Homo sapiens: one gene and its partner. The main gene of each other region encodes a partner of the protein of the gene in region 2 in a complex. Each region holds a gene or a part of one and is shown on either strand. Other genes may lie near its edges.

Region 1 (7,998 bases), on a different chromosome or scaffold from region 2:
CAAGTAGCTGGGACTACAGGCATGTACCACCATGCCTGGCAATTAACTGATTTTTAACAAAGGCCCTATAACATATTGGGAAAAGAACAGCCTGTTCAATAAATGGTGCTGGGAAAACTGACCCCCTATATGAAAAGGAAAGAAACTAGACTCCCTACGTCTCACCCTATACAAAAATCAACACGAAATGGATTAAAAACCTAAATATAAAACCCAAAACTATGAAACTACTAAAAGATAATACAGGAGAAATGCTTCAGGACATTGGCCTGGGCAAAGATTTTATGGATAAGCCCTCAAAAGCACAGGCAACAAAACCAAATATAGACAAATTGGATTACATCAAACTAAAAAGCTTCTGCACAGAAAAGGAAACAATCAATAGAGGAATGAGACAGCCTACAGAATGAGAGAAAATATTTGCAAAGTATTCATCCAACAAGGAATTAATATCCAGGAAGTATAAAAAACTCAAACAACTCAATAGCAAAAAAAACCCAAATAATTTTTAAATGGGCAAATGATCTGAATACACATTTTTCAAAAGAAGACATATAAATAGCCAACAAATACATGAAAAAAATGCTCAACATCACTAATCATCAGGGAAATACAAATCAAAACCACAGTGAGATATTATCTCACTCCAGTTAGAATCGCTATACGAAAAAGACAAAAACAAATGCAGAGGGTGAGGATGCAGAGAAAAGGGAATTCATACACTGTTGATAGGAATGTAAATTAGTTCAACCATTATGGAAAACAGTGTGTAGATTTCTCAAAGAACTAAAACTACAACTACCATATGATCCAGCAATCCCACTACTACCCAAAGAACAGGAAATCAGTATGTCAAAGAGATACCTGTCCTCCCACAGTTACTGCAGCACTATTCACAGTGGCCAAGATACGGAGTTAACCTAAGTGTCCATCAAAAGAAGAATGGATAAAGAAAATGTGGTACATATATGCAATGAAATACTATTCAATCATAAAAAAGAATAAAATTATGTCATTTGCAGCAACATGGATAGCACCGGAGGTCATTATCTTAAGTGAAATAAGCCAGGCACAGAAAGATAAATACTGCATGTTCTCACCAATATGTGAAAGAGAAATAAGTTGATCTCAGAGAAGTAGAGAACAGAATAGTGGTAACTAGTGGCTGAGAAGGGTAAAGGAGAGGATTATATATAGAGAGGTTGGTTAACACATATAAAATTACAGCTAGGTAGAAGGAATAATTTTTGGTGTTCTATATCACTGTAGGATGACTATGATTAACAATAATTTATTCCATATTTTCAAATAGCTAAAAGAGTGGATATTGAATTTTCCCAAAGCAATTATTACAGATTGTATACAGGTATCAAAATATCACACTGTACCCCATATATATGTACAATTATTATGTGTCAATTAAAAAATACATCCACAAATTTATTGATACTTCATAAAAAAAGGAGTCATCTAATCCCCTCTCCTTAGACACTGATGGCCTTAGTAACTAAGTTCTAATGAATTGACTATGGCTTAAAGTGACACTGCATGACTTCCACTGTGAGTTTAGAAAAAGCATTATAGCTTTCAACCAGATTTTTCTTCTTCGGGATGCTCATCCTTGGAACCCAGTTAGCATATTGTGAGGAACCAAATAGTGCTGTGGAAAGATCATGAGAAGGTGTTCTAGCCACAGCTTTGGCTAAGGACTAGGCCAACACCAGTATCAGTCACCAGACATGTGAGAGAAGGGGTCTTCAGATGATTCCAGCCCCAATCTTTTAGCTGCCCCAGCTGATGTGAAGTGGATAGTGGAACAGAGACAATCTGTTCCCATGAAGCTCTGCATAAATTACAGATTTGTAAGTAAAGTAAGGGTTGTAATTGTTTTAAACCATTGCATTTTGCAGATGGTTAAACAGCAATAGATAAAAGGAACAGGAAAAAAGAGTGCTGAATATTGGACAGTAGTTCAGAGCATATACTGCATCCTACAGGACAGTATCAAAAAGGGTTATCTCCCAGAAGGCACCATAGCTAAGTCTTCAATATATCTTCAATAAGACAAGATACTTCTCAGTGATTGAGTACACAATTAGACCAATAAATTCCATGGGCAATAGCCCATTGCATTACTTCTTTCATTGCAGAGTGAATTTCTTGGTCAAAAGCAATATAGTGTTAGAGAAAATGATAGTGTCTAAAGCACTGAGTAATTCCCTAGATGGTGGTGTCAGCGGAAGTACAGTGAGCAGGGAAAGCAAATCTCAATCTAGAATAAACATATTTTAGAGAGGACAAATAAGAACTCCCTCAATGATGGGGAGGGCCAATGACCAATGGAATAGACTTGCCTACATGTGACTGGCTGACCCTCCCAGAGCATGGGGTATTGGTCACTGCTTCTGAACACCCAGCGGTGGCTTGGTGATCCCATGCATAGCTCCAATCCTGTTGCCATTGCCATTGCCATTTATTTCATGATTCTACTGAGCAGGCAGTGAGGCTGAGTTTCATCACAAAGCAGTTCATTTCATCCATATGATTCTTAAGATTTATTCTGAGAGGTCCATCACTATATCCCTTCTGGAGTCTTCCTTGTCACTAGTTCTCCAGTCTTGCTCTTTCCATGTCCTTCACAAACTGGCCAAAAAATTATCCTCTGACCCTGAATTGACCATTTCTCCTTTCAGCCAAACTGAACATCAAAACATACTGGTGAAAATTCTGCCCACTGAAAGAACTTCACTATTTCAATATTTTTCAGGTCCAAAGCAGGACTACAACATATCAATTTCTAGCAAGTACCAGTATATTGTCCAGAGCAACATACCTGTATTGTATTTTGCACATCATAGGTGCTCAATAGACACTTAAGCAATTTTTAAAATACAGACATATTATTTCCCTACCTGTATTTCAACAGCTTCCCATTGGTCTAAAAGATCCTGCTGGGTATGGCCTCTGCATACTCCTTTCACTTCTCTGTACTCTAAGCCTTGACTCTCAGTTCCTGTAATGTTCCATGCTCTCTCCTGCTACAAGACCTTTGCTCAGACTGTTCCCTCTCCTTGCCTAGTTAACTCTTGACTCAAGATACTTCCTGTCTTACAATCATCTTTCTTCATAGTACTTATCTCTGTATTAATTCCTGTCTCATCCTGGGACTCTAAGTTCTATGACTATGTGCACTCACCACTGATTCCCCAACACCTAATATAGTGCCTGGCATATATGATATGCTAAATAATATTTTGTTAAATGAATGAATACATGAATCAGTGAATGAATAAGCCTGTAATGATGCAGTAATTTACCTATAAGTTATCACTGCCAGTTTTGCTTAAGAAGCTTTCTGCCATCACAATTTTTACTCATCTAATTCACATTTCTTTATTAATTTAAGAAGTATTTGTCAAGACAACTTTTCTAAGCATTACTTATATACTAGCACTATGCAACAGAAATTTGTGACCACATATGTAATTTTAAATATTCTAATATCCATGACAAAATTAATAAATTTTATTTAGCCTAATATACCCCCAAACATCATTTCAACATGAAATCAATACAAAAAATTATTAATGAGATATTTTACATTCTTTTCTTCAAACTAGTCTTTGAAATTTGGGGGTAGTTTACAATTACATATCTCAACTGGAACTAGCTATATTTCAAGTGCTCAAGAGCCACAAATGACTAGCAGATACATCATATGCTATATCCCACAGTGTAGTTCTATAGGATTCACTTTCACTAGAGAGGGTCTGATCACCCTCAGCTCTTATAATTAGTGGTCAGGAAAACCACCTTAAGTCAAACCTAACTGTTCCAGTATAAGAGATGATTTAAACTAGAATTGTCTCTGGGAACAATTTTAGCTGGTGTACCGTTTTCGCCTTCCTATAACATCTTTTTGTCTTGTTTTTTTTTTTTAAACTTTTAAGTTCAGGGGTACAAGTGCAGGTTTGTTATATAGGTAAACTTGTGTCACGGGTGTTTGTTGTACAGGCTATTTTGTCACCCAGGTATTAAGCCTAGTACCCATTAGTTATTTTTCCTGATCCTCGCCCTCCTCCCACCCTCCACCCTCCGAAAGGCCCCAGTGTGTGTTGTCCCCCTCTTTTGTGTCCATGTGTTCTCATCATTTAGCTCCCACTTATAAGTGAGAACGTGCGGTATTTGGTTTTCTGTTCCTTTGTTAGTTTGCTTAAGGATAAGGGCCTCCAGCTCCATCATGTCCCTACAAAGGACATGATCTCGTTCTTTTATGGCCCCACTTTTTATCCTTTTAATTTAAACGGATTCTTTGCTCCCCCTGAAGATGGAGGCCACCTCCTTTGCAAGGACTTCTATCTCTCCCCCTTTGAGGCCACGACATAATTCTCCGCATTTTTAGGTACTTAACAGTAAATCACTTGGTTCACTTGGTTCTCCTGCCTGCCTAGGAAAGGTCAGGAGATGGTCCAGCGCCATGTCTAGCACTGTTAATTCTTTCAGTGCTTTCGTTTTGCTTGGGCCTCTCGGGGAGGGCGCGGAAAAGAGCGCAAGCCAGGGTCTAGGACCACACAAGTGAATTCGTGTTGCTCCCTCAGCCCTGAAAAGTGGCTCTCTCCCCATCAGCATTATACTTGCACAGTGGTTTTGTTTTTAGGTGCATCTACCTCATCACATGGCTACCGGCCACACAGCAACTAACAGCACCGAGGAAACACAACAGCCTGTTTACCTTCAGCCCCGCCACTAACCCTTGGCCAAAGGGAAAGGGGCAGGACATCCTCCCGCTCTGAGCCACCTCCGGAAGTGACGTCGGAGTGTCAACATGCAAGATGGCGGCCCATCACCGGCAGAACACAGCAGGGCGGAGGAAAGTGCAGGTATGGAAGCCCGGTTCCTCGGTCTTCCGGACGCGGCCGGCAGCTCCGGGCCCACTCCAGCTAGAAGGTGCCCGGCGCCACGACCAGCTGGGGTAGCGGCATGGGGCGAACGGGGCGGGGCGCGGCCGGCCACGAGGGGTGGGGCCGCGGCGCTAACGGCTTGAGGAAGGGGCGGGGGTCGGCTTGCTTGGCCCTTGGGGCCCAGGCCCGGGACCCTCGTGGGCGGCATTCTGAGCCCGGGATTGCTTGTCGCCGCTCTTCTGTAGGAGTGGACTTGCGGGGTCGGGATAGGCTCGTTCCCCGCCCACTTGCCTCCCCCTTGCCCTGTCTTTCTTCGAAGCGCTCTGCCCTCGCTGCGTCGGAGCCGAGGCCTCCAGGGGTTTCCCAGGGGGGTGGGCGTTGGAGGAGTGAGCGGCTTGTGCGGGGGCGTGGCGAGGCGGCGGAGCGCCAACGGCCCTGCGGGGTTTCTGCTGAGGATTCCGCACTTGGGAGCCCCCAGCCCTCTCTTATGTGGGAGCTGTCCCCTGGGTAGGTTTAAGTGACATAAGAATGTGCGTGGGGAAATTATAATTTTAATTGTTTTGGTATTTAAGTTCCTCTTCACCATTTCTTCATCTTAAGTGTGCATCGCTGAATCTGTCTTTATTGTTTGTGTAATTTATTGTCCATGTGGTAAAGAGTTGTCTAATCTTACCGTGTGTGTCTTGTGCCTTATGCCTTTGTGAATTCACTTTTGTTTGCGGTTACGCTTAAGAGTTACTGCCACTTCGGGGAACATCACACACCGGGGCCTGTCGGGGGCTGGGGGCGCTAGGGGAGGGATAGCATTAGGAGAAATACCTAATGTAAATGACGAGTTGATGGGTACAGCAAACCAGCATGGCACACGTATACCTATGTAACAAACCTGCACGTTGTGCACATATATCCTAGAACTTAAAGTATAATAATAATATTAAAAAATAGTTATTGCCACTTAATATTTTCAGTGATGCAGGGAATAAAAGCCCTCTTACAGGTGTTTGCCTGCAGGTATATTGTATGTGGTAGTGGCAGTTTGGTGCATTTATTCATTAAACATTTACCTAGCACTTAGGGTGGCCCCCAAAGGGGAAAAGGGATTGAAAGGGTGTAGAAATAATTAACACCTAGGCTTTCTTTATAAAACACAGCATTATATGGAGTTCTGCGGGTTGAAATCAAGTGTCAGATAAAGGTAGTTAGATGAAGGGGTCCTTCAGTAAGGTAATCCCAGCAGAAGGTGGTAGGCCATAAAGTCTTCTGATTAGTTCACATCTTGGTTTTATTGATCTCACTGATCAGTACAGTGTCTTAAGCACTCACTGGATGTTTGTTGAAATGAGTGAAATTAATAAGTCTAAACTCACCCTATTAGGTGTTTTTCAGTGCATTAGTGATAGGATTTAAGTATCACCAGCATCCAAGGCAGGTAGTGAGAATGTCTCCTTGGGACTGAAATATAACTCAAAAAGTAACCCGATTGTATTATAGACTCTATGGTGGTGTACATCTTAGGAGAGTAAGGGTAGTTAATCAGGCCTTTCAGTTTATTGCATTAAGACTTAAAACTCCTATTACTGCAGTGTGTTCCCTGCTTGCTTCCTTCCCAGGCCTGCCCACTCCCAAAATGCATGCAATAAAGTATATATATTTTAAAAAGACTTACAAGGCAATTGTACTAGTATGGGATGGAGAAAATGTAAATTAACTGCAGCAGGTTTGGAAAAACAGTGTTCCAATAGGCTGAATGTGAGCCAGTGCACGTAGAATGAGGCAGGTGATAGATAATTCCACTTTTCACTGGTCAAAGTACAAAATTAGAGTTTGGTGTTCAGCACTTAGGACCTTGTTCTTCATAGGTAGCAATCAGATTGGTGAACTGACTTGAAATTATTTCCTATGAAGAACTTTTGAAAGAGCTGTCTTAGATTAACCTGCTGAAGAGAAGATTCAGGGAACTTTCGGAATTTGTCCCTAAGGTATAGAAGCAGCCTGAGAAGCCACAGGGATTGATTTCATCTGAACCATCATTGTCTATGAGGTGTTTTTTAAACTAATGCGTGTTCATTGTAAAAATCCCAACAAACAAAAACATAAATTAGAGTTGCCCTCCATGCTTCCAAGAAAGCTACTGCGGGCAATGTCATGTTTTAATCCTAGACCAGAGTTTATCAACCTGAACATTCTTGAAATTTCATCTGGATAATTCTTCGCTGTGTCTGAGGGAGGGAGCTGTCCTATGCATCACAGGTTCTTTGGCATCATCCCTGGCTTCTACCAACTAGATGTAGTAGCATCTCCCCAGTTGTGACAACTAAAAATGTCTCCAGACATTTTCAAATGTCCCCTCAAGGGCAAAATTGCCGCTGGTTGAGAACCGCTGTTCTATACCTCTTGCTGTTTGTGTACCTGACTTAACATATTTTTTTGCTATAAATGGAGCCATAGTATTCACTGTTTTGTGTCTTGCTTTGTCAAATTTTTAAATAAACATTCCCTTTAGCCCAGAATTCCTTATCTAAAAATATATTCTACAAAATTGCATATGCATGTATCTGTCCCTACTTATGCAAGGGTGTTGTGTGAAGCCATTCTTGAATTGCTATAAAGAAATACCTGAGACTGGCTCATTTATAAAGAAAAGAGGCATAATTGGCTCATAGTTCTGCAGGCTTTACAGGAAATATGGTGCTAGGATCTGCTCGTCTTCCAGGGAGGCCTCAAAGAGAGAGAGAGTCAAAAAAGCAAGTCAACATGGCATATTCCCATTTCCACAAAGGAAATATGCATTTTAAAAGTCAGGAAGGGTAATAGCAGTGATTATCCCTTTGGGAATAGATTGTGTGATTATAGATAAGACAGGACATGGGATATCTTTTAGTTTGAAATATGCACAACTTTGTATTTTTGAACTTTTTACCACATTATTTGCTCTTATACATCAAAAAGAAAACTTCTCATCTTGGAAAAAGCATACATGGGTACTTGGAGTAAATATACTTTGTCTCCTGACTGTCTCAGACCACGAGACAGTAGCCCTGAGCTCCTTGTCAAGTTGTAGGCCAAGACAAACCCTTGAGACTTAAAAATATTGCTA
Region 2 (7,335 bases):
TATTTCAAGAGGTACCCTTGAAAATGTACTCACTGCAATCTAAACATAATCACTCATTTGGTTCAGGCTATAATACTAACTTATGAAAAACAAGTTTTACTAATTTTCACATGTAAGCACAACACTAGTGATCTAAAATAAGACACAGCTGAAGAGAATTGTTTTTAACAGTTACTTAACCCAATTAAGGTATTGCAGATTTGCCCAGGTACGTTATTTTGACAAATGAAAAAATTATGTACACTTCAGTACTTATAGAATAAAATTTCAACTCATCCTAAATGTTTTCACAGCTGCTGATTCTGAGAAGTGTTCTGTTTAAGTCCAGCCCATCTTCTCTCCACCATTCCACACACACACAGCCACATCATCCCTGCTTCACCCGGCATACCAGGAGGAGGCAGGAAGGACTTTGGAAAACTTTTATACTGAATGCAGAACTTGGTACTCCAGATCAAACTGCAGAAGTAAATGATAATCCTTCCCCTTCAAGGCCCTCACAATTGAGTAAGAGTTCAAAGAAAAATTTACTGCACAGTAAGTATGATAAGTGCTACTGAGATTACAAAAATGCCATGAAACTGTATGAAGGGGATGGAGGGTCGGGTTGGACAGGGGTAGGATTATTCAAGTAAGGCTCCCTGCTTAAGAGACAGGCACACACACTCGCCAGACAAGAAGGATACGGGGTGTGGCAGGGAGGAGCGTTCCAAGCCTAGCAAAACAGCACCTACAAAGCCAAAGAGGTATCTTTGCTTTTCAATTTTGTGATTCTCAGAGGACAAATGGCAATTTTCTTTAAAGAATAAGACTGCAAATTACTTTGAGATATTCAGCACTATTTGGGGGTACATTCGAATGTATTCAAATATGAATACAGACACACCCAATTTTAATAGTACCTTTGGAACGATCTCATTTGGCCAGGCATTTTCTGTATTTGCCAACAATACACACGCCCCACATGTAATTAATGTATCTGGATGGAAGCCCTAGAAAGAGCTTCTGATTTGACATCCTTGGGATCAGAATCCCACTTACTAAGTGTGTGACCCTGGCAAATCCCTGTGTCTCACTGTCCTAATCTGATTACAGCATACATTTATTGTTTACCTGAATACTGTTTGTGTCCATGAGCAAGAATGTAAACACCAAGAAAACAGGGGCTGCCCTGACCAATACTGCATCCCCAGTACTCAGCGTCGCCTCTAGCACTTAGTGGCTGCTAAGTGTATACTTGATATACAGTACTTGAGTGAATGAACAGTCGGTAAAGAGTATCACACCACTCCTGAAATCTAGTCTTTGACAATGAACTATGACCCATACAATGTGTGTAGCTCAGCCATGTGGCAAAATTGTCACTGTAAAAGACCTAATTATCGCATTCCTTTTGAAATTGACTAAGATAATAATTGGCGTATCTAAAAATAATTAGCCCAAACAATTCTCCAAAATCATTTTAATATAGTCCATTTAATACAAATGCTTTCCTAAAATGTAAACTGTGAGAAAGAACAATCATCCAGTTGGGAAATGGAGTCTTCAATGATTCATCCTTCAATATGATTTCTTTAATACTGTCGATTTTATGTCCACCTGATTTCAGTCATTTTTTGTACTGTTCCTCAGCGTGTAGTAGAGAATCTGCTTTTTAAGGCATCTTTCAGATCTGATTCACCACTCCTTAAAGAAAAATATATACAATGTACCACCCTTAGATGGAAAATTTCTTGGGGATCTCCTATATGAAATCAGTTGCATAAATAGGGCCAGTGAGGCATGAAACACAAGATTTCAGAAGTCTCTAATAACAACCACTAGGCCCACGTTGCAAAGAACAACTTTTTTCGGTGATGACTCATAAATTATGATCCCTACATATAAGCTCATGAGGAACTAATGAAACGAATTTGTCTCATCATGTGGAAAACTGTGGTCCTTCTGGCCACGCACAAAACACCAAGTTTTAAACGCGCCCACGTTTTGCTTAATTCGGGACTTCCAGCGGGCATTAGCACTTTTCCCTTACAGTCTATTTAAACGCCCTAGGAAAACAAATACCATCGCCTTGGCAGGCGGTCCCCGCACAGACAGACCTAGCTCCAGCCACATACAGATGTGTCTGGTGGGCTGAAGTAAACAAATGACAGGAAAGCTAATGCTGCTTTTCAAGATTAACGTGCATTCCCAGAGACAAGACTGCCACCTGGACACACGGCTGGAAACGGGAGAGCTCGTGCCTCTCAGAGGAGAAAATGGAGAGAATTTCAACAGTACTTATTTAAAGTTTCCACCTTCACACACGCCCCTTTCCCCCAGCGCGGGGTCGGGGACTCGGCCCAGCCAGCGGCGCGAGGAAATCTGCACTTGACTTCCGTCCTCTCCCAGGCGGGAATGAGCGCTGCCCGCCCCGGCCGAGACCCTTCCTTCCTGCCCGCCGACCCCCACCCCTCCCGGGGACCCCTCCCGCTCGGCGCGCGACCAGAAGGAAATGGAGCCCGCGCGGCTCCGCGCCCCCTCCCCGACGACCCCGGCCCGGGGCCGCGCTCTGGCTCGCGCGCGCCCACCCCTCACCCCGGCACAGGCCGGGCGCGCCTCGGCCCTCGTCCCCGCGTCCCGAGCGGACCCCAGCAGTTCAGCCGGGGACTCCCGGAGGCCGGTGCCCGCCCGACGCCGCGTCTGGCACGGTCGCCCACTCACCGCTACCCTCGCGCCGCCCTGGCCCACCAGGCGGCGCCCCCTCCCCAGCCGCCTGGGCCGCTCACCCCCGCGCTCCCCGCCTGCGCGCCGTCCAACCGCCCCCGCCCGGGCCGCCCGGGCCGCCCAGCCCGCCCGCCCGCCCCGGCGCTAGGCCCCGCGAGCGGCCACTGGGAGAGGCGGGTCCAGCGCCGCCCGCCCGCCCGAGAGGTCCCGGCAGCCCCGGCCGCCCGCTCGCCGCCACCTACCATGGTACAGATGGAGGCGAATTTGGAGACTGTCATTAGGATTTCCATCCGGCCAGCGCCATCTTCCACCCAATCACAGCGGCGGCGGCGGGCGGGGGAGGAGGGGAGCCGGGCCGCCCGCTCGCACCGCAGCCCGCGGGCGGACCCCGAGCCGCCGCGGACCCAACCACCGAGCCCGCTGGGCCGCCGCTGCCGTCGTCGCCGCCGGCGCTCAGGCACTCCCGGCCTCGGGCCCCAGCCCCCGCCTGCCGGCCGCCGGCCCGCCCCCGGCTCCGCCCCGGCGCAGGGCGCAGCCGCTGCCTCCGGGCCCGCGCCTGCACGCGAAGCCGCCCTCCGCCCACCCCGCCCAGCGCACAGGGGAGCGGGCTCCGCCGAGGCCCTAATGCCCGGCCTGCCAGGCAGCGGCGCGGCCAGGCGGCGCAGCCCCGCCCACCCCTCGGCAACCCCTCCGCGGCCCTTGTGCGCGAGCCGGGGAACTCCGGTCCGTCCCCACCCCGCGCGCGGCAGAGGGCAGGACCGAAGGCGGGCGCCACCTCCTGCCCGCGTCCCTGCGGTCCTAGAGCCGGGGACCCAGAGACCCCCGCGTAGGAAGGGGTGCGGCGGGGAGGCGCGGGGGTGGCGGCGGCGATCTGGGAGAACCCTGGAGGGGACCAGCTGCGACACCCACCGCGGGCGAGGGGACGGCGAGCCCCCGCTGCCTAAACAGAAAACGGAGGCGATGATCTGGGTAACTACGGGCGGAGTGGGAGGAAACCTGCTCTGCACAGTTAAGATAACCCGGGTATGCGTCCCAAGCACTTGGTTTGTTTCTTTTTACGTATATTGGATGAATCACCGGAGTCAAACACAACTTAGAAAAAGACAAAATAATTAAACAAAAATGAAGAGGCAAAGAACAAATTACACATGTTTAACTCTTTGAATTAAGAAGAAAGATAAGTAATGGGGGAAGGAGAGGAGCGAAACCTGTTGGCCTGTTGGCGATAAATTTATAATAGGCTTCTAAATATCTGCACATTGAGCTGCAAAATAGGGAGGATCTCAAGCCAGCAGTGATGATGATATTACCAGAGACAGGAAGCCCGCAAGCAAGAAAAATGCCCTGTGAGAAATCCTTAGGCAGTGCTGGCTACTGGCATGGGTAGTTCCTCTTTCTCCTTTTATAAAATTCATATTTGCACCCTGTTCTTCATGCCTGGCAGCTCAGCTTTATTTTTTCCTATTTGAGAAAGTAGTTCAAGTGAGTAGAATAACTTCATAAATTATTATGTTAGAAAGCTTGTGATATTTTCTGATTGAACTCGTGATGGGGTACTTTTCTGGGTTCCCCTAATTCAGTGGGGTTGAGGATCTGAATTCAGGCAGAGCTGTAAAATCAGAAATGCCTCACCTCAAGGGTTCAAAGCACTCAAAAACAAAAAGCATTCAAACAAAATTTAAGTGAAAAATAGACTTCTGGTACATGAATACTGTTTCCATAGTGATTCCATTATAAGCTTGCTTGGGGGGGGAATGCAGATTGAATATAGCCAAGCCCCATGGTAGCCGGACTGGATCTCCAAGCGCCTGCCTCCATGGAAGCCAAGAGCCCTGATACCCCAGCCAGGGGCTTTCCTCTCTATACTTGCAAGCATCACCCACCTGAATTCTTTCTTGCTCTTTTCTACCCCCTGTTTGGACAAGGGTTTCTACATCTTAGACCTCTAGGGCCTACCTGGGCCTTGTCCGAGTGTCACCATGCCCATCTGTGTGCCCGTCCTGATAAATAGCTGTGGTCATCCTGTCCTTCCCACTTGCTGTTCTATTCCAGCAAACAGGTCTGATGTGCCAGAATTTTAGACCTGCCTCCATCCCGCTAACCACCCATATGCCTCCTTGTCCATTAATCCGAACATGTCACAGGAACAAAAGCCACTGGCTTTACATATAAGTTTATATAAGAACAAGGCCTTTCTAAAATGAATTTCTAGGCTGAGTATGGTGGCTCACACCTGTAATTCCAGCACTTTGGGAGGCCGAGGCAGGTGGATCACTTGAGGTCAGGAGTTGGAGACCAGCCTGGCCAACGTGGTGAAATCCCGTCTCTACTAAAATACAAAAATTAGCCAGGCGTAGCAGTGTACGCCTGTAATCCCAGCTACTCAGGAGGCTGAGGCATAAGAATAGATTGGATCCTGGAGGTGGAGATTGCAGTGAACTGGGATTGTGCCATTGCACCCCAGCCTGGGTGACAGAGTGAGACTCTCTCAAAAATAAATAAATAAATAAATTTCTAGGCTGGGCACAGTGGATCAGGCCTGTAATCCCAGCACTTTGGGAGGCTGAGGCAGGAGGATGGCTTCCAACTTCCTTGAGACCAGGGAGTTCAAGACCAGCCTGGGCAACATAGTGAGACCTTGTCTCTACTAAAAATAAAAATAAATACGTGGTGCATGGTGGCGCATACCTATAGTCCCAGCTACTTGTGAGGCGAAGTAAGAGGATAACTTAAGCCCGAGATATCCAGGTTGCAGTGAGCCATGATTGAACCACTGCACTGTAGCCTGAGCGACAGACTGAAACAGTATCTCAAAAATACAGCACAGTGGCTCTCGCCTGTTGTAATCCCAGCACTTTGGGAGGCCAAGGCGGGCGGATCACTTGAGGTCAGGAGTTTGAGACCAACCTGGCCAACATGGAGAAAGCCCATCTCTACTAAAACTACAAAAATTAGTTGGGCATGGTGGCGAGCACCTGTAATCCAAGCTACTAGGGAGGCTGAGGCAGGAGAGTCGCATGAACCTGGGAAAAACCAGTGAGCCGAGATCATGCTACTGCACTCCAGCTTGGGCGACAGAGTAAGATTCCGTCTCAAAAATTAAATTAAATTAAATTTTAAAAAGTAAAATGGATTTCTGATAGAATTATCTGGAGTCATGTCTAGTTGATGTTGGAGCCATCTAAATTCACAGGTAAAGTCATGAAACCTAATCACAGAGCCTCACAATGCCTTGTCTCCACAGCCTATGGTCGATTGGAGAGACACAAACATAAAAGAGACATTCTTGAATCTATGTGCTAGGTGTTGTACTGAGTGTTCTTTACCATATGTAATGCAGTTGGAGAATAAGTTTGGCTGAAACTCCACACTTTTGCACCCTGAGCTTGGAAAGGGTAATCTGGCTTTAGAACACAGCTTTACACAGCTGTGTAATCAGCTTTACAAAGAGCTTCCCTGTGCCTAGCAAAAGATGAGTTTGTGTACAACTGACTCCTTTTCGGCCTTCTTGAATATGCAAACTACAAAATATGCCCAGATGCCTCAGGGACCAGGCAAGTAAATGAACTATGTCCAACCTTAATCCATTTAGTCAGCACAGCATTTTATAATGTTTTCATTTGCATACTGTTACACAATCCTACACTCTCCAGTTCCTTACAGTCTGCCTCAAATTTTCCTTTACTCATTCTGTTCAACAGTTTAACACAAGTCACTTTATTATATAGTTCTGCTACCTCTTTTCTCCCTGAAGGCATGTGGGTTTATACCAGCTCACATAAATGATTCGTGAAGCTTTGCTTGTGATGGGTTGGGAAAGAAAGTGATGGGGAGTGGTCCAAGAAGGGGTGTAAACATTTTATCTAATCCTTGCAACAACCTAATGAAGCAGGTGTTACGATTATCCCCACGTTTAGATAAGGAAACCAAGGCACAGAGATAACTTTTCCAGGGTTGCACAACTAACTAGTAAGCAATGGAACCAAGGTTTGAACCTAGCTCCAGGAGCCACACCTGTGTCCACTCCACTACACTAGCTTTGTAAAAGTATTTTATTTTGATTCTGACAGGATGAGGTTGAGAGGCACGACTCCTTTCGGACTTGCATGAAGGTTTAAGCTACAAAAAAAAAATACTCAAATCGATATTTCTTTGTTTCACTTTCCTCATCTGGAAAATAAGGGTAATAATTATGTTACAACGATAAAACATGTTTCAAATAGTGCCTGGCGCTCAACACAAAATGGAAAGTTTAGAATGGACATTCAAAGTCAACATTTTAAAAGTTGGGGGGCCGTGCGCAGTGGCTCATGCCTGTAATCCCAGCACTTTGGGAGGCCGAGGCAGGCAGATCACGAGGTCAGGACATCAAGACCATCCTGGCTAACCCGGTGAAACCCCTTCTCTACTAAAAAATACAAAAAATTAGCCGGGCATGGTGGCGGGCGCCTGTAGTCCCAGCTACTCGGGAGGCTGAGGCAGGAGAATGGCGTGAACCTGGATGGCAGAGCTTGCAGTGAGCCAAGGTCGCGCCACTGCACTCCAGCCTGGGCAACCGAGCGAGACTCCGTCTCAAAAAAAAAAAAATTTAAAAAAAAAAAAAGTTGGGGTGGGCAAATACAGCCCTCG

The links.
Region 1: the proteins of USP12 (region 2) and WDR48 are in contact, whole or in part, in a crystal structure (PDB 5K1C), measured with the Homo sapiens proteins. Residues at the interface, in NP_872294.2 of Homo sapiens: Arg185, Leu187, Thr188, Cys189, Glu190, Thr191, Ser227, Lys230, Cys236, Arg237, Ser238, Lys239, Gln240, Glu241, His243; in NP_065890.1 of Homo sapiens: Arg50, Trp77, Asp118, Tyr119, Lys121, Leu137, Ser170, Tyr172, Thr188, Asp211, Asn212, Lys214, Ser230, Gly254, Trp256, Arg272, Ile363, Ile364, Leu424, Lys425.

What each region holds. Positions count from the first base shown.
Region 1 is NC_000003.12:39,047,194-39,055,191, forward strand, and holds the start of WDR48 (WD repeat-containing protein 48), read left to right. Parts: upstream 1-4,822; 5' UTR 4,823-4,832; coding exon 4,833-4,880; intron 4,881-5,098; exon of another isoform or gene 5,099-5,408; intron 5,409-7,998. UniProt on the Homo sapiens protein: Regulator of deubiquitinating complexes, which acts as a strong activator of USP1, USP12 and USP46. Enhances the USP1-mediated deubiquitination of FANCD2; USP1 being almost inactive by itself.
Region 2 is NC_000013.11:27,168,644-27,175,978, forward strand, and holds the start of USP12 (ubiquitin carboxyl-terminal hydrolase 12), read right to left. Parts: upstream 3,169-7,335; 5' UTR 2,997-3,168; coding exon 2,949-2,996; intron 493-2,948; exon of another isoform or gene 294-492; intron 1-293. UniProt on the Homo sapiens protein: Deubiquitinating enzyme that plays various roles in the regulation of the immune response and inflammation.